Linked DNA regions of Homo sapiens. The protein of the gene in region 1 purifies or fractionates together with the protein of each later gene. This does not show direct contact. Each region holds a gene or a part of one and is shown on either strand. Other genes may lie near its edges. The genes, in order: SLC43A3 and ATP11C.

Region 1 (12,581 bases):
GACTTGACCGCACCCTCAGCCTGGGATGCAACGGGCACTGATGCCTCTGAGCCCCAGGCTCAAAACCAGGCGCAAGAAGCCGCGATGAGATTGAGATGTGGTCCTGACCTCATGGACAGTGCATTTTGCTCATTCTGAGGCCCAAGGCTAGCATGGAAAGTCTTGGACAATGAGCTCAGCTGACGATGTGATTGGCTTGGGACTTAGCCAGGACAGAATGGGCAAAGCGAAGGTCCTCCCACCTGGAAGCCCCAACAGCCCAACCCCTTGGAGAAAGGGGTTAGTGCCTGGTCTGCAAATCAAGGCCTTGAGTTCTAACTCCTCCTCACTCTGTGACCTTGGGCAAGGCGCTGTCCTTCTCTGGGCCTCAGGAGCCTTTTCTATAAAAAGAAATGATCGGACTGATCTAGCTCAGAGTGCTATGATTTCAGGACTACAGTCCCAAGGTTATCAGGCTCCCTTAGCATTTGGGGGTCTTGTAAGGCATGGAGTAAAAAAAAAAAAGCAATATCCTAAGGCTGGAGAAGAGGGAGGGGACAAAGGAAGGGGAGGAAAGGGGAGGTAGCAGGGAGCCAAGGACCAAGAAGGACTGAGGTACAGTCATTCTGCATCCAAAGGCTTAAATTGTAAGGGACTGGCTTTACTCTGGCTGTTTCCGGAAAGGCAGGCCCAGCCAGCCCTCCCGTCTCTCTCTCTGACAGCCAATCTCACATGTGCCTCCCTGGGAGCACCTGCTCTGAGCTGTATCAGCCCCCAGCAGGCCGCTGATTACCACTGAGCCTGGCCACAGAGCACGAGATTAGGATGCAGCAACACACTGTGTGTGAGATCACGTCCCGAACCTTCTGACTCATCTGCACAGGAAACCCCCCCAGTCTCCCCTCCAGTCAGAAGGGACCTGAAATTCCACCAGTGGCAATACCAAAGAAACTTCCTATTAGCTAAGCCCCTAGGGAGTGATTGGCTGTTGGGGCGGGGAGGGGGGGCGGTGAGGAGGATGAGGATGAAGCCTGGGCAACCTGGATGTGAGGCTGTGCAGGGGATGAGGACAAGGATCCTTGGGGTGAAGGAAGAGAAGAGCAATTTTAGGTTTTGCTAATTTTGTAACCCTGGCTCCAAGCCAGCCCTTACAGGAAGTCACCCTGGCCTCCGGCTCAATTCAGCACGTGATAGGGAAGCCACATTTATGCAGAGCAGGGAACGAGGTAAGGAAATGGAAGTGGGGCTGTGGTGAAGTGGGCAAGTCTAGAGAGAGTCCCGCTGCCTGGGGCTGTTCCTAACAGCTGCTGGGAGCGAGCTGCAGGTGTGGTGCCTGGCAGGGTGGCCGGGCTGTCTGACTCTGGATTTCACTCCAAGCTAGGCTGCTGCCTGAAGGATTCCTCTTACCCACCTTTGCCTGGGCTGGCCTTTGGGACTTACATGGCTATGAGGCGTGCCACGGTGGTCTTGAACCGGTCAAAGATGTAGCCAGTGGGGAATGTCATGAAGTTGTTCATGAAGGACCCCAGGGTGAAGATGAGTGAGAACCTCTCATCCTGGGCTTTGCAGTCTGGAGTAGAAAAAAGGTCTCCCATGCATCCCAGCCTTCCTGCCAAATGAGCACACAGGCTGGGCTCCCCTCCACCTCAGACAGCTTGTCGGTCGCAAACTTGTCCCTTAAGCTGAGTTGAAATGTGGCTGCCCCTAATTACCCCTCAGGAGCTGGTGCCTCCCTCCCAGGCACTTCCCAGATCAAGTGGGGTGAGAGCTGCTGACCCTTCCTCTCATCATAGAAAGAGGGGTGGGCAGGGGGCAGAGTCCTTCCTGCTCCTTGCCACCACGTGGGAGCCAGACTTAACTTCCTTAGAAAAGTCATCCCTGCCCTTACCAGCCTGCCCTGTGGCATTGCCAATCGGCCCAGCATCTGGTCCACACAGATCCTTAAAGTAATCTTCATTCTTGAAGACAAACACTAGTGAAGGCCAGCCAAAGAGGACGCCAGCAAAGCCCAGGCATTCCAGCAGCCCAGTCAGCAGTGTGGCCACGTGCAGGGGCAGGCCCTGGCCCGCCATGAGCAGAAGTGGAGTGGATCTTCAAATCCCACTTTGTCCTCCTGGACGGATCACAGGCGCCGTAAGCCTGGCGTTTGAGCACTTGGAAAATTCCTCTGGCAAGCCAAGCCCTTCCTTTCCCGTAGCTCTCTGGTTGTTTCAGGCCTGGGCAAAAACCATCAGCGGGTGATTCTCTGGATCCTGTAGAATAAAGATAGAGGCTGCTGGAAGAGGAGGCCTGCGGGAAAGGGAAAGGTAGACTAGAGTTATTTGTGAGGTGCATTAAGAGGCAGGATGATCATGGCCGCTGGCAGCAAATGTGGGGAATAAATACTCCAATACATCATCTTAGGCACTGCATTTGAGTAACCACGTGGCAAGTAGAGAGGCAGGTCTTGATGGCCACCTGGAGTCACAGGTGAGATAAACGACTTACCCAATAGCTCCCCGGGAGCAGGTGGAGAAGCGGAGCTCCTGCGCTCGAATTCTGAATACCGTCCCCTAAAATAATGACAGCAACTCAACCAGGTGCAGAGGCAGGGAGATTTCATACAGAAGACACAAACTCCCGCTGCCAAGTTGGTGTTATCTTCAGTTTACTGACAATGAAACAAAAGCTCCCATGGATTTCAGGAACTTGCCCAAGGTCACAGGGCTAGTTTAGTCACGACGCAGGCCATTCTACTGCCAGAAATACCCCCAACTCCCATGACCCTCGCCTAGGACTCGCAAACCTGGTCCCCGCCGCCCTTCCTCGCATCAACTTCTACCAGGAAAGCCTCCGGGGGCCGCTCCCCGCCAGCCTCCGCACCCCGCTCCAGCCTGCGGCCTGCCCTCCCCGCAGAGGAGCCCGAGGGGCCAGGCCGCGCTCGGCGCCCCATGGCGCCCGAAAGGGGACCCTTCGCCCTACCCGCCTGCTCCGCGCCGGGGCTCTCCGCGCCCTTTCCGCACGGGCCAGGTTCGCATTCGCGCCTCTCGCAGCCCCTCCCAGTCCCCTGCTCGCCTCCGCCCCCTCCTGCCCGCCCGGAAGGGGCTGGGGCAGACCTCCCACTCTCCATCACTTCCTTCTTCTTTTCCCTTGCTCACAGCCTCCCGCGCCCTTTTTACCTCTCCCTCTTGAAACTTCTCCCTCTAGAACCCCCTAGAACCCCAGCGGTGTCTTTCCCTCCCTCCTCGCTGCCTTTCAGCCTCCCAGCCCCCTTGCCTCTGCCTCCCCTAACCAAGTTAGTTGAATGCTGTTACTCGCTCAGGCCCACCTAGGGAAAATGTCACACCCAGCACCCAGAGGACACACAGACAGCACATGAGGGCATAGGGACACACACACTCTATTTGTGCATTTTGCCTTGACCGCTGGGTTGGCAGGGAACATATTTTTCCTATTTGCTCACCAGCTTAACCGTCTCTCCCAGTTTCACACTCCCAGAGCTGCCAAAAAAATCCCAACCACAGAATCAGGAAGCCAAGAACCAGGACTGAGGGCTTTTCAGAAACCATCCCCTGGAGGACTGCCCCATATTTTCACTCCCAAAAACCCCTTAGATGACTCCCTGCCTCACCCCCGCCCCCCAGGTTCTGAAAGAGCCTTCCCGCCAGACTGCATTGATTAACCATTCATTGCCCCATTTTTTATTAATCAAAGACATATATAATTGCTCATCGGAGCTTGTGATCAGCGTGAGGCCTTACTAAGCAGCTGCCTTACTATCCTTCCAGCCCAGAGCACGTGAGCTGACGTCTTCTTTGGCCTGTGTGGCCGTTTCCTTGCCAAAAGCTCAGTTTGGGGAGAGCTTCTTGCGTATTAGATGCAGTCTGCAGACTCCCAACCCCAGCTACCTGGATCCCCTGAGGGCCCAGGAACTCCAGCTATTCCAAGCCCACTCCTCTTTTTTTTAAGAGGAAGAAATAGAGGTTACGATAGGGGACAGCCAGAACTGAGGATTTTCCAGCTCACCACCAAAGCACAAAAGATAAAAGTCTGCAACCACCCTAGTGACTTGACTGAATGGAGGAAGGGTGGCTGGGGTCCTGTACCCCAAGCTACTCACTAGTTATACAACCTGAGGCAAGCTCTTTGGCTGCCCCACCTGTAAGACGAGGACAATAGTACCTTAATTATAGGAATTGTCATAAAAGAAGTATAAGATGGGTGTATGAGGTCCCTGCATGGCGCAGGTGCTATAGGCAGATTGTAGGGTAGTAGATTTTCTAGTCTGCAGTTATGTAGACAGAGCCAGAGAAGCAGCTCTGGGGAGGAATTTCAAAGGAACTTGCCCACGGTCATTCTACAAAGCTGCAGTACCTTCCCAACTCTGAAACGTATGCTCTCATCACCCCGTCTTAACAAACATTTGGACATTAGAGAAAACAAGTCTTTTCTTAAAATAACATTATTTATGGGAGAAAATCCACAAAAATATAGCATCCCAGGACAAACAGGGCTTAAGATGCAAGATTTTCTATTTTACTGCAAGACACAAAGACTCTGAAATTAATGCATGCCCTATCTTCTGCTCTGGCATACATTTTAGTCTCCTGGGGGGATCAGTAAGTGTGGAAGTAGCAAGGGAGAAACAGAAAAAAGTCAAAGTAAAGAGACAGATTTTAGAATGTTAATCTGCAGGAGCCTGCCAGAAAGATCTAGCTCATGGGCTATCTGTACATCCAGGACTGAAGCACGGGACACGGGGCAGGTCGTCCAGGGTTCTGTCCACCTTATCTTGTTACCTCTCTTGACTCTTAGAGCCTCCACTCCACATCTCCCATCAATGTCTGCAGAAGACGTGGCCTCCACTAACACAAGTCTTACTGAACTGATGGGACAGGAAATTAGAATATCCTCTGAACCATTCCCATGTTCTTTGGTTCGAATTCCAGCAGCTAGAAAAGGCAGATGCTATTCTGATCACTCTCCTGCGTGGCTCCAATGAGGATTAATGAGTAACATCAGAGAGAGAAGTGATTATAATAAGGTCTGACGGTGCACCCGATGTCTTCATCCTTTTCTCTTCGCCTCCTTCCTCATCATCTCACACCTTTTTTTTTTTAATTGACTGATTGGTTCAACAAATACATGTGGTACCTCAGGCTCTGTGCCAAGTGCCGGGATTCGTAGAGAAGAGATTCAGTGCCTGCTCTCAAGGGGCTCATTCTCTTGTGGGAGAGACAGACAAAGAAACCCAAGATTTCTGGAGTGTGGGAATGGTCTTCCAGGCAGATGCTAGCACAGCACATTGAAAGGCACGGAACCTCAACAAAACAATAACATTTAGGAACCAGCTAGAGCACAGGGTGGTGAAGAAAGTGGAAAGATTTGAGGCCAGCGTCGCCATCTAAGTGAGGGCATTAAGAATTCAGCCCACATCAATCAATCATGTCCTATTGATTTCACCCCTTAATATCTCTCCTATCTATCCGTGGCCACTGCTCTATGCAGACACTCATCATCTCTCACAGAGGCATCATCTGCTTCCAAGCCATCGCCATTCTCCTGCAAGAGTTTATTTCCATGGTTCCCACTGGATGGCTTCACTTAACTGCTCAAAACCCTTCTGAGGTCCAGTCAACTGGCTGGTAAGGACCAGTCCAGGGTCTGGGGATGCCAGCCATGAGACATTGCTTTGAGGGGAAGAGGGAGCATAGAACTGGATCTCCTGCATCCTACTGCCCAAGTACCAATGCTGGAGGTGGTTTTCCTTCCCATCATCAGCAAGTCTGGATATCCAGGATCCACCCTATGGATGTTTTTATGGACAGAGTGGGAAGATGGATATGTTTAGGTTAGGGAAAGAGGGTTTGCCAAAGAGGGCAGTATAAGTGAGCTGCACTCCATCATTCCCCTGGCACAAACAATGGCTAGTATCCTCTAGTCCTCAAGAGCACCACCTTCCAATGCAGTCCCTGCCTGTCCACAGACCTCTCTCCTCAAACTTCCTCTGAACAACCTCAGCGAGGGCAATTGCCACTCTCTGGGCAGAGTCCAGATATTCTCTCCTACCCTCTGACATCACTTTCTAAATTTGTATATGTAGATAAACTCTGAGCCATTCACATAAAGGGCTTTGATTTCGGATACGCCAAACACATAAACAAACAAACATAAGCTTTCCTTTCACAATGGGCTCATGTAAATTAAAATGTTTGGTTTTCCACCTACGGTCTTGAAAGGGGTTTCTACAGCCTGTTTTGGAAGTCAGAAAGCAAAAGGTAAATGCAAACATCATTTCACCTGCAGAGAAAATTCTAATCCTCTTGAGGCAGTGCCAAAAATAATACAAGCACACTGCTATCGAGCCAATTACTGGTATCTCTGAGCTTCCGTCTCCTCATCTATAAAATTGGAATCGAGCTGTATGGATTAAAGATAATGTATGAAAACTGCCCAATTAGTACACTATTAATAAATAGCAGCTACTGTTGTTAACAAATATTATTGACTTACTGGAAAACAAAGAGGAAATAAAGTCACATTTAGGGAGAATTTCAAAGTGTTCCTAACCTAAAAAAGAAATAAATTAGGGGGAAAACCACTAAGTAATGGGTGAGCTCAGTTTACCTTGCTTAAGAAGTCCCACCCTAGAGAACTGATCTCTAGATGACACCCAAATGCACTCAGTACAACCCCCCAAGACTGTCTGGGCTTAAGGCAGGGGCTTGGATTGTCCTGTAAGCTGTGGGAAGTCTGTTCATGAGCCACAGTAGACAGGAAGGGGATGGAGTCTTAGAGCTGGCTCTTCAGGGTATCTCCTAGTGTGTTCAAAGCAGTTCTCAGGAGGGTGGGGAACTACTACATAGCCAAGTAAATATGAGGCCTCCTTGCTCTGGGGAGACCTTTCTCTTTAACAGAGGTGAATCTGAAAGGATACCCAAAGAGGCACTGGAGGGTGGGGGCCACTCTGGCCCCTCAGAGCAGCCAGCTCAGCTTCAGTGGATGCTAGAGGCAGCAGAGGATCAGCCTGGATCAGCCTCCCTTTCACCATGCAGAAAACAGAGCTCCCCCACCAGACCAGATACTGGAAGCACTGGGCCAGGCCTAAGAGAAAGCAGAGCCCCAAGCCCCACCACACCAGGGCTTATGAGGCTACTGCTACCCACCCTCCCAAGCCCCAGCTCCACTTCTATGTTCATCAAGCAACTGTTTACTGGTAACTGCACTTCCCGATAGACTTTGCTAGAAAGGAATGCCTCAGTGCACTGACAATATCTAAACCTGCAACTCTAAGGACTAGGCTGGGGAACACTGTGTCAACATGGAGGCACGTCCTACCCCTGAGAAGAAAAATAAGGAATATCAATAATACCTGCTGGGCACTGAGCACTGACTATGTATCTGATTCGAAGCGCTTTTTGCTTAATCTGTCACTGAATCTCACGATAGGTGTTGTTATTAGCATCTATTATCTGGGCCAACTGAGGCCTAGAGGGACGAAGCAACTCCCCCAACATCACCAGGTAGCAGTGTCAGGACTGGGATAGAAACCTGATGCTCTGACTGAAACTAATGCTTTTTTTTTTTTTTTTTTTTTTTTTTTTGAGACAGCATCTCACTCTGTCACCAAGGCTGGAGTGAAATGGTGTGATCTCAGTTCACTGCAGCCTCCACTTCCCAGGTTCAAGTGATTCTCCTGCCTCAGCCTCCCGAGTAGCTGGGATTACAGGCGTGCACCACCATGCCCAGCTAATTTTTTTGCATTTTTTGTAGAGATGGGGTTTCGCCATGTTGGCCAGACTGGTCTCAAACTCCTGGGCTCAAGTGTTCTGCCTGCCTTGGCCCCACAAAGTGCTAGGATTACAGGCGTGAGCCACCATGCCCAGCCAGCTGATGCTCTTAATCTGTGCCCTACCCAGCCTTCCTGGGAGGCTTCCCAAGAGCTACACAGAGCATGAGTTCTGGAATCGGGTTGATGGGGGTACCAGTTATTACTAATAGGAATGAAGATGGGTAATTCTTTCAGACAGCACCCTTGATTAAAACAAGAGAGTAGTGCTGCCTCTCTGTGATTCTGTGTCTCCCTGCCCTGCTCACACAGACACCACACCCACCCACACGCATGATCATGAAAAGAGGAAATGGATCCAGGAGAAGGAGACGACTCCTGAGTGAAAACAACGGGGTTTTTCACATTGAGAGCTTTGCCCAACACCCCAAAGATGAAAAGAGCAGGAAACTGCTGGGGCCGATTGAACACTGGACTTTTGTTGTGGAAAAAGGCAAAGGGAAGCCGGAAGAGACTGGAACAGTTTCCATGGTGCTGGAGGATGGGGAAGTGGGTAGGGATTAGCTGGAGGGAGAAGGAGAAGCTGGGGTGGAGGGGAACCTCCACTTGCCAGGAGAGCACATGTAGGATGGGAACCCCAGATGATACTCAAGGCATGGCATTAGACCAGAAGCAAGTCTGTGGTGAAATTAGGGAAGGCTCCACTGCGGACTGTAGACAGAGCACTGGACAAGGAAGTGGGAGACCCAGGGTCCAGTCCTGGCTCTGGAGCCCCCTGGGTGGGCTGCCCCGGGCACCTTTCTCTCTTGGGGCCTCCATTCCTACCTCTGTGAAGCGAGTGCTGAACCTCTCTTAGCCCTGACTTGCTGAAATGCTGGGACTCTGTACAGAGGCTGACATTAAGCAGGGATCTGTCGTGGGGTGCTGCAATGTTCCTCCAGATGCTGCACGGGAGAGGGCAGAAAAGGCCTATATGGTGAGTCCGCCCTGGGAGCCTCTGCTTGGAAGCTGAAGTGGCCTGAGAGTGACTCAGAAACCACGGAAGTTCCCGGGGCTGATGGGTTCTTATAGATTGTACATGCAGCTCTCCTCGTGGGCTGCAAAACCGCAAGATGGGCTGTGACCACTCTCAAGGAAAGAGCCCTATCTGCAAAAAGCATTCTGCCCTCCAGGTCTTAAAGCAAACACAGACTCAATCCTTATTCCTTTTAAGACAAAATTGCCTCAGGGGCATCAGGGAGGCAGCAGGCCTCAAATGTGTGCCTTTCTAGAATTCTCAATGAAAGCACCCTTTTGGGTATTAATAATGACAACAGTAATGACAGTCATTTACTGAGTGCTGCTTTTGGGACAGGCATTGGGCTAAGAGCTATATGTAATATATATTATTATTTGATGCCCACAGCCACCCCATAAGGAGGCGGAGGTACTATCATTATGCCAACTTTAAAGATGAAGAAACTGAGGCCTCAAGAGATGAAGTAACTTGGCCAAGTCACTCAGCCAGTAAATGGGAAGAGATAGACTTCCCAGTATCCAGAGCCCATGTTTTCACCATTATGCTGAAGTACCTCTTTTCCTGTGCCAATGTGATCTGCCTCCAGGAATCCTGTCTTGATGTTCCCTTCCCCATACAGAAGTCCTCTCTGTGTCCTCTTCAGCCTGATAGTATATCTTTTCATACCATTCTTTGGACATCTCTGTTATACTACTCCAATGGTGTTCCCTCCCCTACCCCTCCCTGGGAGCTTAGTTGTTGTGATTAAGTATAGGGGAAATGACCCACACTAAACAAACTCATAAGAGACTGATTGATAAACCTGAAATGCAATTTATTAATTAACACTGAGAAATGAAACCACCCAGCAGATGGGAATCCTAAGGCTGACTGGTCAGCACAATCTCTTTCAGGAAGGACAGGCTTTTGGGAAAGGAAATCAATACCAGAAGGTTCTTTGTTGAGTACAAAGTCAGAGGGAAGGGAGTTGATGGATTGACACATAGGTGAAGCTTGACATACCTCTATAAAGCCTCCATCCTGCCAAGGATCAGAATATCCAAGGCAGGGAGCCATCTGGGTGTCCTCTCCTTTGGACAGTGCTGGATTTTTCTGGATCCTATGAAGATCTTACCTTTCTGGCTGCATTTATCATGATTGTGGAAGGCTTTTTGTTTCCTTGTTTGCTTAGATTAATTTCTGCGTATTTAATAGAACTGAAAGGCAATTTCCCATTGAGACCCACTGAAGAGGAATAATCAATACATACTAGTTGTGTTGCCCTTTGCAGAGAATTCACTTCTGTGTTGTCACTGTATCCTCATGCTTCCTTATAATGGAGGGACAGAGATGGTAAAAACATGGACTTGGAAGCCAGACCGTCTGGGTTTGAATCCTGGCTCTGTTACTTATAAGCTCTGCAACCTCGGGCAGATTACCTAAGTCAGTTTCCCCTTCTCTGAATTGGGGATAATAATAGCACCCACCTCAACATCTGTCAAGAGGATTCAATGAGGGAATACACATAAAGTGCTCAGAACAGTGTCTGCCATCTGGTAAGCAGTCAATACTTGTTAGCGATGATTAATAATTCATTTCATAGATGAAAAAACTGAAGCCTAGAGAGATAAAAAGTCAACTAAGATCATACAGCCAGTAAGTGGTGAAGATATCATTGAAAATCAAACTGGCATCCTTTAAGCACTAAAGTCTTTCCACAGACTAGTTTCTTACCCATTCGCTTTCATAACAAGCTGAAGGAGAGCTTGTTTAAAAATCAGGTATATCCACCCACCGGAATGGGTAAAATTTAAAAGAATGAAAATATCAAGGTGGAGCTTGGACGCAGAACAACTGGAGGGAGTAAGCAGTAAGAACCACTTTGGAAAAGTGTCTGGCAGTTTCGAAATAAGTTAAACAAACACTTAATGAATCAGCCAAGTTCAACCAGGGATGTGGAACCACTCTCTCTGTGGATTGCTACAGGGATTTGGCCTTACTCAATTGTAGGAGGTAGTTAAGCAATCTTGTAAGGCTATTATCTTTGCATGTCATGTTGCAGTTGAATTCCACAGGTCAGGCAACTGGGAAAGGAAGATGGATATAAAGTGGGCAAGACAGAGCAAACTGAGCCCCATAAGTATGAACTGGAACCCCATGAGGATGAACTGAAGCCTTTAAATCCACATCAGCTTTTGTTGTCTCTGTCGTTGTTAATGTATTTTGCAGAAGCCCGGGTTCATTGCATGGAGCTAACCACATACACACCTGCCCCAACAGTAGGCAACGCCAAAGGAGAAGCCAGCTCCATGCCAACCAGGTGTACCAGCAGTTCAGTCACAACATGTGTGAGCCAGAAACCGACTCCTGCTTCCCTTCCACCCTCCAGATTCCCTGAAGAGACACCCTCATGTTCCGCTCTAACCAGAAATACACAAAAAAGGGAATTCAACATAACCAAGTCAGCACATTACAAAGCCAACACACCTACCTTATGATCAGGTAATTCCACCCAAGATATTTACATAAGCGAAATGAGTGCATACGCTCACCAGAAGTAGTGTACAAGAATATCCATAGCAACTTTATTCATAACAGCCAGAACCTGGTAACAGCCCAAATGCCCACCGATAGGAATACGGATAAGCAAATTGTCCCGTAGTCACACGACGGAATACTGCATCACAACAAAAAGAACCAACCTTTCATACACACAGTGTAGATTAATTTCGCAGATGTGATATTGAGCAAAATAAACCAGATGCCAAAAAGTACACAATGTATATATATTTTTTCTTTTTCCTTTTTTTTTTTGAGACAGAGTCTTACTCTGTCGCCCAGGCTGGAGTGCAATGGTGCGATCTCGGCTCACTGCAAGCTCTGCCTCCCGGGTTCACACCATTCTCTTGCCTCAGCCTCCCAAGTAACTGGGACTACAAGAGCCCGCCACCATGCCTGGCTAATTTTTTTTTCTTTCTTTTTTTGTATTTTTAGTAGAGACAGGGTTTCACCGTGTTAGCCAGGATGGTCTCCATCTCCTGACCTCGTGATCCGCCCGCCTTGGCCTCCCAAAGTGCTGGGATTACAGGCTTGAGCCACCGCGCCCGGCCATATTTTTTCTTTTTTGAGGCAGAATCTCACTCTGTCACCTAGGCTGCAGTGCAGTGGTGCAATCACGGCTCACTTCAGCCTCAACCTCCCAGGCTCAAGAGATTCTCCTCTCTCAGCGTCTCAAATAGCTAAGACTACAGGCACGCACCACCATGACCAGCTAATTTATTTTTTTTGTAGAGTCGGGGGTCTCACTATGTTGTCCAGAGTAGTCTCCAACTCCTGGGCTCAAGTGATACTCCCGTCTCGGCCTCCCAAAGTGCTGAGATTACAGGCATGAGTCATCATGCCTGACAATGTATATCTGTGTGAAGCTCAAGAATGGGCAAAACTAATTGATAGAAAAGTTAGAATAGTGGTTAATTACCACCGGAGCAGGAGAGGTGTGGGTCTGTTACCTCTGCTGAGGAGGGGTATGATGGAGTCTGAGTTCCTGGAATGTGTCTTGATATAGGTGGTAGTTATATAGCTGTATAGATGTGTAAAATTTCACTGGGCTGTACGCTTAAGGTCTGTGCCTGTAACAGTATGTATGACATACTTTAATTTTTTTTTTTTTTTTTTTGAGACAGAGTCTCCCTCTGTTGCCCAGGCTGGAGTGCAGTGGCACAATCTTGGCTTACTGCAACCTCTGCCTCCCAGGTTCAAGCAATTCTTCTGACTCAGCCTTCCGAATAGCTGGGACTACAGGTGTCTGCCACCATGCCTGGCTAATTTTTGTATTGT
Region 2 (11,738 bases), on another chromosome or scaffold:
CCAATAAACATTTGTTGAACCACCTACTGATGAACATCTCTCTTTACATCCAATGTCTGAAAGGCTAGATGGTTTTTCAGACTCTGGGATTTCAGGAGTCGCAAATGAGGCAAAATGTTGTGGGCACTCAGCAGTGCTGCCTCTTTTTTTTTTTTCTTATGAGAAAATGCAAGAGCAAAGTAGTGCAATATGAATGCATAGAGGCCTACTGCAACATGGCAGCCATGGCTATTCTGATAAATCACATCTGTTTATATAAGGCCCTATTTGGCTATATCAAAGAGGTGGAGGCCAACTTCTAAGATAAGGGAGAAAGAGTATGTTATTTTCCCCCAAATATTTTAGTCTTTATGCTCAGTGACCAACAGTCTGACACTCTGTGTGATTTCCTACTTTGTTCTGTATTCCTTGCTAAGACATTGGCCTCATTTTAAAGAGAGGCAAAAGATACTGGGTCTGCCCCATATCCTGATAGATCCCCCGATGTGGTCAAATGTGTGTCTCTACCTAGAGTAGAAGAATCCCTGACTTCAACCAATAAGTATCGTGGACACTTTATGTACACAGCCAGAAATGTGGCAGGTCAGCTGCCAGTGCTGTTCTTATGTGGGTCTTGGCAGCTGCTTTGAGAAGGGGACTTAGCAGTGTGTAGTGAAAATGTCTCTATGGCATTTGAGAAAGAAGCTAAGCTATTTATATTTAACAATTATAAGAGCAACCTTATGCTGAATTCTGTTCAATTCAGCATACCTTGCCTGAGGGCCCACTATGAGTTAGCTACTGTACTAGGTGTTGGTAATTCAGGGATGAATCAGATGTGGCCCTAGCTCACAAGCAGCTCTCACTCTGGTTATAAGGAGCATTCATATGGAATACTTCTGTAAGCAGGTATTAAACAGAATAGCAGAATCAGTGATGTGGCTTGTTTTAACACAATTGAGCTATTTCAAGTCACTACCTCCTGAAACCTCCAGTAAAATCGCTAGTATGGCAGCCTCCACTGCAACTGAGTTCTGTCATAATGCTAGTATTAGAAAGAATTCCAGTATCTTCAAATGTAGGTTCTCTCAGTTGTTTAACTCAAGGGTTGTAGTTAAGCCATGTATCCATCAGCTGTATTTTTAGCAATGAGGTTAATTTTTTTCCCCAAAGTTCCGTTATTAAGGATCCTAGAGCTTTTCTTTAGCTTTATGAAGTGACAAAGCTGCATAGCAATGCTGTTGAGGGTATATGATGAAACTACCATTGAGCACTGAACAGTGAAACAGCAGGATAACACCTCAAGGAAAGGTCAAGTATAGGATTTTTGTATTTCAAAAAGTTGTGTCCCCCCTAAGCACAGTCATTGGCTGTCTGTAAATCAATGAAATATATCTGGAGTTTCTGGCCAAGTAGCAAATACCATTTCACATTTCCAATGGAGAAATTTCCACATATCCTGTGTGAAGTTTTCTCATGTAAGTCACCACAATCAAAAAGGAGGCTTAACTTCGCTGAAGCTTGACAAAGGAAGACTATAATTTAATGGGAATGCACCCAGCAACATGGCCGTGCTTAGCATGGGATGTCAGCACAAACAGGAAGAAATATTCCATTATGTAGAGAACTCTTTCAGAGTGGTAGACAGGGAAGGGAAGAATGTCAACTGTCTGAGCCAAAGTCCCAGAGAAAGCATTTTGGAAATTTTGGAGAATATAGTTAATCATTATAATAATGATGATTACTATTATGATTCTTACAGTGTCATATACAACCATGGGTTCACAGGGCAATAGCCCTGTTAGCTGGATTAGACAAAAATAAAGTTTAATCCTAATGTCGTGGCTGTTGAGATGGGCCTTTATCCATTGGCCTCTTTGACATACTGCTAATTGAGCTGGTGTCAAAGCTCTCTAGATGACTGCAAAGGAATGTGGAAATTTCATTCTGTTTTAGCTCATTATCTCCTGTTTACCCCACCCCACTGCCGGTTGCTAGCTATATCAATTTTTTTATTGCTTTAGTTACTCTTTCCATGCTTTCTCCTGCTTTCTGTACTTTCATTTCCTTTATAAAGTAGTTTTAACACCTAATCTATTAACTCCTAATATTTCTGCTTCATAGAAATACTTTTATCTCCGATGGTTGGATACAAGTGTTTGAGCACACCAAAACGTGCTTACAGTTGCAGTCTTGAATAGATAGGTTTGTGCATTAAACACGGGGGTGGGGAACTTGGTATCATGCTGATCTTGTCGCAGGGTTTTTGCCCATAAAATAGAAGATAGAAACAATTAAAATCTTTTTCTCAGAATCTAAATATTCTCTAGCTTTATCAATTGGTAATTTGCATTCTATCAATATGTCTATCAACTTTCTTCATTCCACCAACTTTCTTCATTTAAGGTAAAAACAAGAAAAAATGTAGTTGTCAAAACATGAATAAATTATTTACCTTTGAAAGTTTAATTGTTTATTAGAATCTTCTGGAAACAAATGTTACTTTAGCTGGTTTCTTTTTCTAAGCCCATTTTAGGTCACTAAGTAGACAATATGGGTAATCTTTATTAGCAGAGTTGTTCAAGTCATCCACATTGTTGACCACTCATCTTCTGTTTTGCTTGGGCAATGCCAAAACTGAGTCTGTAAATTACCTTATAATTTCAGGCACAGAATCAGAAGGAAAAAAATAACCTTAGGTTTGCCAGTTAAACTTTATCCATTTTCACTTTTCTGGGTGTTTTAAGGGGAAAAAAAATAATACCTTACCCAGGTAAAATTTAGCCTATCTTTCTAAAGAGGACTCTGTAGGAAAAACAGGGAAACCAATCAAATTAGGTTGTAAGAAAGGAAGTTAAGCATTGGTCAGAGGCAAATGGGACTGAAATGTGGTATCACCAAATGTTTTCCCATTGTTATTTTTGATTAAGTTTTTATCCTGCAACTGCTTAAGAGCAGTCAGTCCCTTCATAGTGTATCTGTACAGTTGCATAGGGGAGATAATTACTTCAAGATAGATTGGTGATTGGCAATGGACCCTGGACATAACTCTTTGACCAATGGATTTTGAACAAATGTAGGATAGTGAATTAATGATTAGAGATAAGTCTTATTTTAACGAGAAGCATATTTTAAAGCTATTTTATTTAAAATAGTCAATTTTCCCATTAACAAAATAATTTCAAATTGATATGTAGAGAAATAGTAGTTGGCACGTAATAATAGACTATTCCTATCTCTGACTCTGCTTTTACTTCAGAAAATAATGTCTTCAAAACTAACATATCATTTCGGCTTCGAATTCTCAAGTTTTCTTTTTAAATGTCTTACATTTGAGAGATTATTTACTTTTTTTTTTTTTTTGGTTTCTGCATTTCTCTTTTTTCTACTGCAATTTTCCACCTTTTGTGCAATTGTGAACAAGGTAACGAAACGCCTCCCTTCCTCAGGAACATCTGCTATCTTCATGCTTTCTCAAACTTCCAGCAATCACAGTTTCTCTTGGAGTGAATAAGGTGATTTCCTTTCTTAATGTACCAACTTGCTTGCATTCTCATTTGCCTGACACCATTTTCTAATTCTTTATGAAAAATTACTTCTCATGACTCATTTTATATCTTCTATTGATGCTTAGAGTATTTTGTCATTTTCTTTTAATCATGTGTTCACCTTCCAAATTGTCACACTGGAGAGGAAGTAATTTTTAAAAGCTTGGACTACGGGTCTGTAGTCTTCATTGATCCACGGTATGCAGTGGCCATGGCGTGTTAGAGCTAGTCTGTTCACCAGGACAGGAATGTTTTGCACAAATTTCTCTTTGTTTGATAATACGGCACCGGCACAACTCTCAGAGGTGTTCACCAAAAGGATGGTAAGGTTTACTAATCAAACCATATTGACTCATCTTACCATATTACTTACCAGTGCCATTCCAAAAACCCAAGTTTACTACATACTACTGTTGTCTGTTTACTTCTACCACAAAAACAATTCGAGTTGGAGACTTTCTTAGGCCTTTGAATGTATTCATTTGAATGTTATACATTTACTATATAGTGTAATCATTTGTACTTTTGGCCAGAGGAGTAGTCTATAGGAAATGATTTTTTTCTTTTACCTTTTTTTAAATATATAATCACCAGGTAGGTTAACCAATTTTCAAATGCTTTAAGTATCTTTGCCTCACTATTACAGAGAAATCTGAGCTGTAGAAGGGCATCTGACTCATTATCCGCCAGACCTTCAGTCAGACCTCTTCTTTTACGAACATTCTCAGACGAATCTAATGTATTGTAACAGGTACCTAGTGTTAAACAAATGGGCTGGCTTTAAAAAATCGGATTAACAGCATTATAAAGAAAAAATGAAAATATCACTCTCTAAATTTTCTCTGCTGTTGGTGTGGTGAACTTTACAATATTCTTTGCAAAAATATAAAGATGCATTACTTGGAATATGGGGAAATATGCATTTAAAATATTAAACATTAAAATATGATAAGCCCCCCAAATAAAATGTTAAACATTTTTCAGAGCCAAATGTTGATACAGCATATTTAATTTGTAAGGGGCAAGTTGTCATGGCAAGGCCACCATGTGAAAATGTTTGTTAATATTGATCAGGAAATATAACTTTGATTTATAAAGATCATTTGGAAAACTAAAAGTAAATATTCCAAAATTGCATCTGTATAATATCAAGCCAATTTAGCATTGCATGTTCTCTTGGGAATTATGTGAAAATAACTAAATGTGTTTGTACCTTCATGTGCTGTGTCTGTGTGTTTGCAGGTACTGTATACACTTATGTCCTTGTAAATGTCTGATCTCCAAATATATATCAATGAACCAGTCTAATCATAACTTTTTTAATGTCAAGTTTTATTCAAGCTAAATGTTTCAACTTTCAGAGGTAAAATATTTCATAGCCATTCAGGGGGATGCTTGCCTAATGATATAAAATGCTTTATAATTAATGTTTCCAAAAATGATTAAATTCACTTTATAATGTTTCATTTACCCCCAAAAATATTTGGGAGGAATTGATACGCCGTGGGAGGGCCCCTTGAACTCAGAATGACTCCTTTATGTATAGTCTGTATTTCCTTCAGTGGGGGCCTTTAACAACTCAGACCTCTGGAGGTCTTTTATCCATCCATAGGAATTTAGAGTAATTAATGAACAAGGCTTCCAAGCTTGTCAGCTTGGAAACAACTCTACACAGCTTAAAGCAGGGCCATCTTTCATGCACACATAAAAATTAATGATCATCATGAATACAATTGTGGGTTAGTTCACTTTGAAGCTAATAATTGCGAGTCCACCTTATAGGCCCATTTTTTTCAACAGCTGTCAACTCTGCCACCCTCTAGCAAAGAATACAAGTTAAATTAATGGATTGACTCCATTGGTTCTTCTGTCTTCCTGGAGTTCATCGCAGTCTACATCTGCACTGTTATTTTAGAAGCAGACTCATTTTGCCACAGTTAGCATCTTTTTACCCATTTTTGAACAACTTACCTGAGTATGTTTTCCCTTAGTAATGAATCTGCTTCACAAGTAACCTTCAAGGTCTTTGACCCCTTTGTCCCAGATTGCCTCGTTCTAAGCTGTGTGATGCATTTTAGCTATATTGTTTCTGGCTAATTTTGTATCCCCCTGGATTGCTCTCTTTAGCTTGGTCTGTGGTTTGGGGGACTGGGCTGGATAGAAGACACTGCTGTTGCTTTTGGCCTCTCCAGGGCCTTATCTCCTACAATGTCTAACATAGAACTGAGGAAGTATTTTTTAAAAACAATTGTCTTATTTTTAATGTAGTTATTTCTTCCAGGAATAGATTTTCATGTGGCATTATTTCTCCTCCAAAGACAATAATTAGCAGCTAGTTTAGGCATCTAGTTTGTTCCTTGGTTGGTAAGGAAACTACCTAACTCCTCAATGTGAGTTACATTCTCAGTATGAATGGCAACCTTATTTTGGTTAGAGTCACCATGACCCTGCAGAGCTACCTGAAAACCTACTAGTGGTTCTGGAGAATGTGGAACATAAATAGAAATGGAAGGTATTCTAATGAGCTTCTAGTCCAGCCATGGCAAAGGAGGTGTCCCAGAATGGGAAGAAAATAGCATACTACTTAAGACCTTCCACTACTCAGGTTCAAAAAGATTGAGTTTTAGAGTGGAGAATCAGGCTCCCTGTTTTGACATATGACTTCCATTTCTTAACATACTTGACTTACACTTAATGATCAGTTTGTCTGTCATGCACCATCCTGATCATAGCATTTGATGATGTTTAGAGGACAGAGAAGAATCTACAGATTTGATAGGGAAATATCCGTGGTTTCTCTTCCAAAAAGATGAAGCATAAGAAAAAACAGAAGAATCAATCGACTCATAGATACATGATCTACCAAAAGGAAAATTAACTTCCATATTGTAGGGGGGAAATATGCTTCTTTCAGTAAAAAGGAAGAATATTTTCACAATAATCTTCCAAAGCTGAATATATCTTCAGACTTCCTCTGTCAAAATTAACACATCAAGAAAAACAGCAATCTAATCATTCATCAAACATTTCCTGAGTATCTGCTGTGTGCCAGACACTATTACTAGCTGCTGGAGATAGAAGGTAAATAAAATGTTCCTGTTTTCAAGGACCTCCCAGCCTAGAGGAGAAGGGATCACAGCAAGCTAAACCTCTGCTATGGTAAATAATCCCAGAGGTAGAAAGTATTAGGAGAACCCTGGAACAATCCAAAAGCAAAAAGCAAGCCTGAATCTATTCAGCTGACAAATGAAGAAAGGATTAAAATCTGGTTATAGTGTCACTCTTTTTTTCCCCTGCATGTGAATAAAACTTGGCACTTTGTTAAGACAGTTGCTTTACTCTCATAACAAAATTTACTACTTATTTCTGAAAATGCTTAACAGATGGTTTCACATTATTAAAATAAGCCTTTTAAATCTGTATATTTTACATTTTTCAGAATCCGAATCTTGAACTGCCTATGTTATTGTCCTACAAGCATACTGACAGTGGTTACAGCTAAAAAAGAAAGCATGAAGAAACAACTACAAAAAGTTATCATCTCAGGATACTTGATACGCAACACACTAAACCACTCTCATGTCTAGAGTTCACAATAAATGTTCATTAAAATACCAAATGATTCTCTTAAGCATTTACCATTATTGTAAGTAGCCTTTATGGCCAAAGCTGTAAGTTAAGAATTATATGAAAGTTGAAAGCAAGAATACTTAGAATTCTGGCTTTAGTTAGAGTAATATAACTCAAATGGGTGCTCTTTTAACCCATGAACTTTGTGAATGGATTTAAATACAATAGTATGAAGTAGAAGTTATGCAATGAGAATGAATAGATTTTGCTAATACTACTTTTTTTGCCTGGCAGAAGAAATAGACTATTTGGATCACATTTCTCATTCCTCCTAAATGATCATCTTAATTTTTTTTCCCAAGTACATAAGGAATACTTGAAAATACAGAATAACTAAATAGTATCAATGCATCAGACAGAATAGTTAATCCCTTCTGTTTACCCATGTGCTACTAATGTCTTGGTAGAATATTCTTGCCAAAAAAATACCTTGAACGCTTATGTGGAAAGTGTTAACTTACGGGTATTTTTGTGGGAATAGAAAAAAATTGTTTATTTTTTATTCTTCTGAATTAAACCCCACTTATGGGTGTAAGCCTACTAGACTTGAAAATAAAGTATAAAACATTTCCAATCACTTAGTAGCCCCTCAAAGTAGTTAGAAAATAAACAGATTTTTCCAGTGTTGATTTTACTGGGATCTGCAGTAAGGTGGTTTAAACCATAGTTATATAAAAATAAAGGTCATTCTGAATATCAGCCTTTTATAATTTTATGTGAAGAGGAAGAAATATAGCTTATTTTAAACTTTTGACGGTTTTTATTTGAAAGAGATTGCATTTATGCATATATGCAGTGCTTTTTCTTAAACTTGGCCAATTTGGAAAGGGGGAAGGAGCCACCCCAAAACGGTGGTTCAGCTTGTAGAGCCATGACTCTGTGAAGATGAATGTTGTCTCTTAACTTGGACAGGGAAATGGTCTAACTCTAAACCATGTAACTGACCTTAGTAAAGTCCTTGACTAACTGAACTAGAAGGAAGGTTTAGCCTTCTAATTAGTTCACTTGAAACATAAATGTGAAATGTCTTCATTCAATGTTAAACACATACTTTTTTGGATATAAATGACCATATTTATTTGACTGCTAGTTTTTTTGTTTTTTTTTTGTCTTTCTGGCATGCCTGTACTATTATTAATGTTTATATTGTACCTTGATTTGGAAAAGTATTGGAGTTAATCTGTATTATATTTATATAGTCCATATGGCACATTTGATTCTTCCACATATATTTTGTGTTAATGTTTAGGTATGATTTTTTTCTAAATTCTAGAAAAGAACATAATTTCAGTTATCAGAAGCCATTCCATCATTATAGACCCTTTTTCATTATTTCATTTGCTCTCATATATCAGTATTATTTTTGAGCATTTTGTTACATGTCATTCACAACTTACCTAAGTGTGCTGTGTTCTGGTAGCCCGTATTTGAGGTAAGCTGCTGAAAACAAAAGTCTCTATATTCTTTGCCTATTCCAAAGAGCTAAAAAAGTCTAACCCAGGAAAGCTTTTGATATTTTGTGTTTGTTTTCTTGTTCTTATGGTTGTTGTTGCTGTATTATGATTGCTGTTTTACATAAAATCTATGGGAACTGTGAATACAGACAAGAGAGCCACAGTAGAGAGGCTTGTTTAATGCAGTACCATTGGAGAGTTAACAGAATAATCTAGTAGAAAAATAACTGGTTGCATGTAAAATTCCTTCCAGCCAGAAAGAAAGAAAGACAAGGAGTAAGGGGGATTTAGAGTTATGTCTCAGCTACACATTACATTGTGATACTGCAGCTCAAATTCAGAATGGCAATGATACATGATATCATGGCCTAGATCCTTGAGAGGGACCTGGCTTTCCTTTTTAAAAGATATTTTACTGAAGAGCTAAAAACTGGCCAGTGTGGGGTTAGCAGATCGAATAACTTGAAATAGACCATGCAGTATTCCTAGCACTCAATGTAATCACCCTATTTGTGACAGAGAAAGGGAAAAAAATATAATAAGATCATCTACCTATAATTTGAATAATTTTGAGCTATCAAAATGTCTTTGTAATTTTCACAACCGCTGTCCATTGTTTGAGGATGTTACCTACTAAACTGAAAACATTCATTCCATATCTACTTACACATACACCAGCAACAGTATAAATGTAAGCCTAACTTTGCAAAATTCGTAATAATTTAGTGATGGAATTTTTTAATAACATGCAGTATATAAATGTGCAGATTTTATGCGTGTTGACAAAATCATTTTTCAGCTTGCAAAATGGGACTGCAATATTACATTTTTCACTTAAGCAGTTTTTTACATCTACGTTGTTGCTTTCTAAAATGAATGTGAATGCCATCTTTTATGACTGCAACTTGCCTTTTCCATTACAGAAATTTTTGTTTGATGTAATCAATAAACTTTGGTATGATATGATTGATATATCAGCCTCTTTTTTTTGGGAAAGGTCTCAGTTTGACATTAAAATAATATGGAAGCAATTTGTTGATGGGAACTAAGTTTCTAATTTCTTCTTGACCTGCACAATTGACAGAAGTTTGACCATTTCTACATGAGTTCAACTGGTATTTTATGGCAATACCTAATTTGGGGAGGGTAAGATATTTGTAGGAGTTTTTAATAACACTGTACCTTGTTACTGCATAGATAAAAGTCCAGCCAAATCAGTAAATACATATTGAAAGTCTACTTTGTGCTTGGCAGTGTGCTTGATGCCAGCCATGCATTGAAGGTAGCATATGTTTGGTCTTTGTGGTCTGTGTCTTCAACCCATTGAACTCATTTGATTCTTAAGCAGTCAAACATGAAGGGATTTTACAGTAGCTTGAAACTTGGTCCAAAGGTGTGTGTGTGTGTGCACACCACTTCCCCCACCTCTTCTTACATTGCTCAGCCTGCACCCAAGACCTTGTGAAAGTCCCTTTTCTTGAAAAACCTCACTGTCCTTGACTGCCAAGAAACCAGAGTTGCTCTACGGAAACTGGTTTCATTGCATTTCTACATTTCAGTCTCTATGTTTTGGTAGTCTTTTAATCCTGTTGGTCTTTGATCTATATTTAGTGTGTATTTTCTTCTTTTTCATTAAGTGGAAAATATGCGAAAACCTGAATTAAAGTATCAGCTTTGCCACATTTCTCTCTGAATCCTTTTTCTTTCTCACCTGTAAGATGGTGTGTGGCAGGGCAAATAAGGTAAAGAATGAAAATTGCTTTGTAAAATGTCATTTGCTATTCATATGTAGGCATTGTTACTTTTATGTTAAGGGTTTGTTATTGCTTAATTTTTTAATGAACAGTTGTCATTTACCACATTTTCATAGATGTCTTACGTTATTTTGGCTTATTGGAATCAGTCAGTTCAAGCTTCCTTCCCTTCCCCCATCCAGCCTTATGGGGCGCTCCCTCTTCGCCTCACTGCTTAGTCTGCCCACAGTTGGCCAATACAGTGAGTATTGTGAGGGTCCGAGTGATCTGGCCCCTTCAACAAGAAGCACAGGCAGAGGTTAAGGGCTGAGGTTATCACTATGGTTATTCAGTGAATGTGTCCATGGGCAAAGTGCTGGATGCATACTAATGAAGTCTGAAGGCCTGTGTTCTGAGAATAGTTATCAGGGGAAAAAAGTGGGCTTAATTATTTTGCAACTTTTAAAAAATTAATTTGACACAATTTTACCAACAACTGATGGGCGAGGAAACATGGGCTCAGTTCCTATTGCGTAGACCTATTGTGCTAAAGAAATGTTGCAGCGTGGATCAAGCAAGTCCTCATCTCATGGGCTTTGGGAGTAAGTGCTGAGGCCTGTGGCTGAGAGAAACAGTGCACTCATGGTGGGCCAGAATTCCTGCTGGCAGTGAGTCTTTGGCCTTGGCTCTTTGGGCAGGATTGAGCAAAAAGGATGTACATAACTAAAATACCTGCTGCTACTTTGGTCTCTTCAGCAGTTGCCAAAACCCAATTCCTCACATTAGCTAACACTTACACAGCACTTAATATGTGCCAGGAACTGTTCTAACCACTTTACACGTATTCATTCCTTTAGTAATTCCAGTAACCCTAGGAGATAGGTACTGATGTTTCTTCATCTGACAGATGAGGATACTGAGTCCCAAAAATACTCAAGGTTACACTGTCTGGTGGAGCCAGAGTTTGAATCCAGGTATTCCGATTAGAGTCTGTGAACTTAACTAGGACACTGTGTTTCTATTTTTATATCACCCCTGATGGCATGAATAAACAAATCATCAAAATGTTAGTATTAAACTTGAGAAAACAGACAAACCAAAATTGAAGGATATTCTGCACAATAACTGGCTTCAAAATTACAAAGATCATGAAAGAGCAAGACTGAGTAACTCTCCCAGATAAACAAAACAACTAAAACTTTATTGTGAAAACTAACCGTGGCATATGATCTTGGACCAGAAATTGAACATTAGTGGGATAATTAGTGAAGTTTGACTACAGTATCTAGGCTATATAACATTGTATAGGCAATATATCTATGTTTTCTGATAATTTGAAATTATGCTGTGATTATGATATATTTTGGGGAATCCAAGTGGGGGGTGTATGAAAA

The links.
Region 2: the proteins of SLC43A3 (region 1) and ATP11C purify together in Homo sapiens (affinity purification with mass spectrometry; 2 studies listed by BioGRID and IntAct, with this or other methods). This does not show direct contact.

The regions. Positions count from the first base shown.
Region 1 is NC_000011.10:57,424,122-57,436,702, forward strand, and holds the start of SLC43A3 (equilibrative nucleobase transporter 1), read right to left. Parts: upstream 3,001-12,581; 5' UTR 2,941-3,000; exon of another isoform or gene 2,765-2,940; intron 2,532-2,764; 5' UTR 2,467-2,531; intron 2,269-2,466; exon of another isoform or gene 2,232-2,268; 5' UTR 2,052-2,231; coding exon 1,868-2,051; intron 1,589-1,867; coding exon of another isoform or gene 1,550-1,588; coding exon 1,420-1,549; intron 1-1,419. UniProt on the Homo sapiens protein: Sodium-independent purine-selective nucleobase transporter which mediates the equilibrative transport of extracellular purine nucleobases such as adenine, guanine and hypoxanthine.
Region 2 is NC_000023.11:139,724,191-139,735,928, reverse strand, and holds the end of ATP11C (phospholipid-transporting ATPase IG), read left to right. Parts: intron 1-3,403; coding exon of another isoform or gene 3,404-3,493; exon of another isoform or gene 3,494-3,494; intron 3,495-4,173; coding exon 4,174-4,275; 3' UTR 4,276-4,278; intron 4,279-6,966; coding exon of another isoform or gene 6,967-7,029; 3' UTR 7,030-9,581; downstream 9,582-11,738. UniProt on the Homo sapiens protein: Catalytic component of a P4-ATPase flippase complex which catalyzes the hydrolysis of ATP coupled to the transport of aminophospholipids, phosphatidylserines (PS) and phosphatidylethanolamines (PE), from the outer to the inner leaflet of the plasma membrane.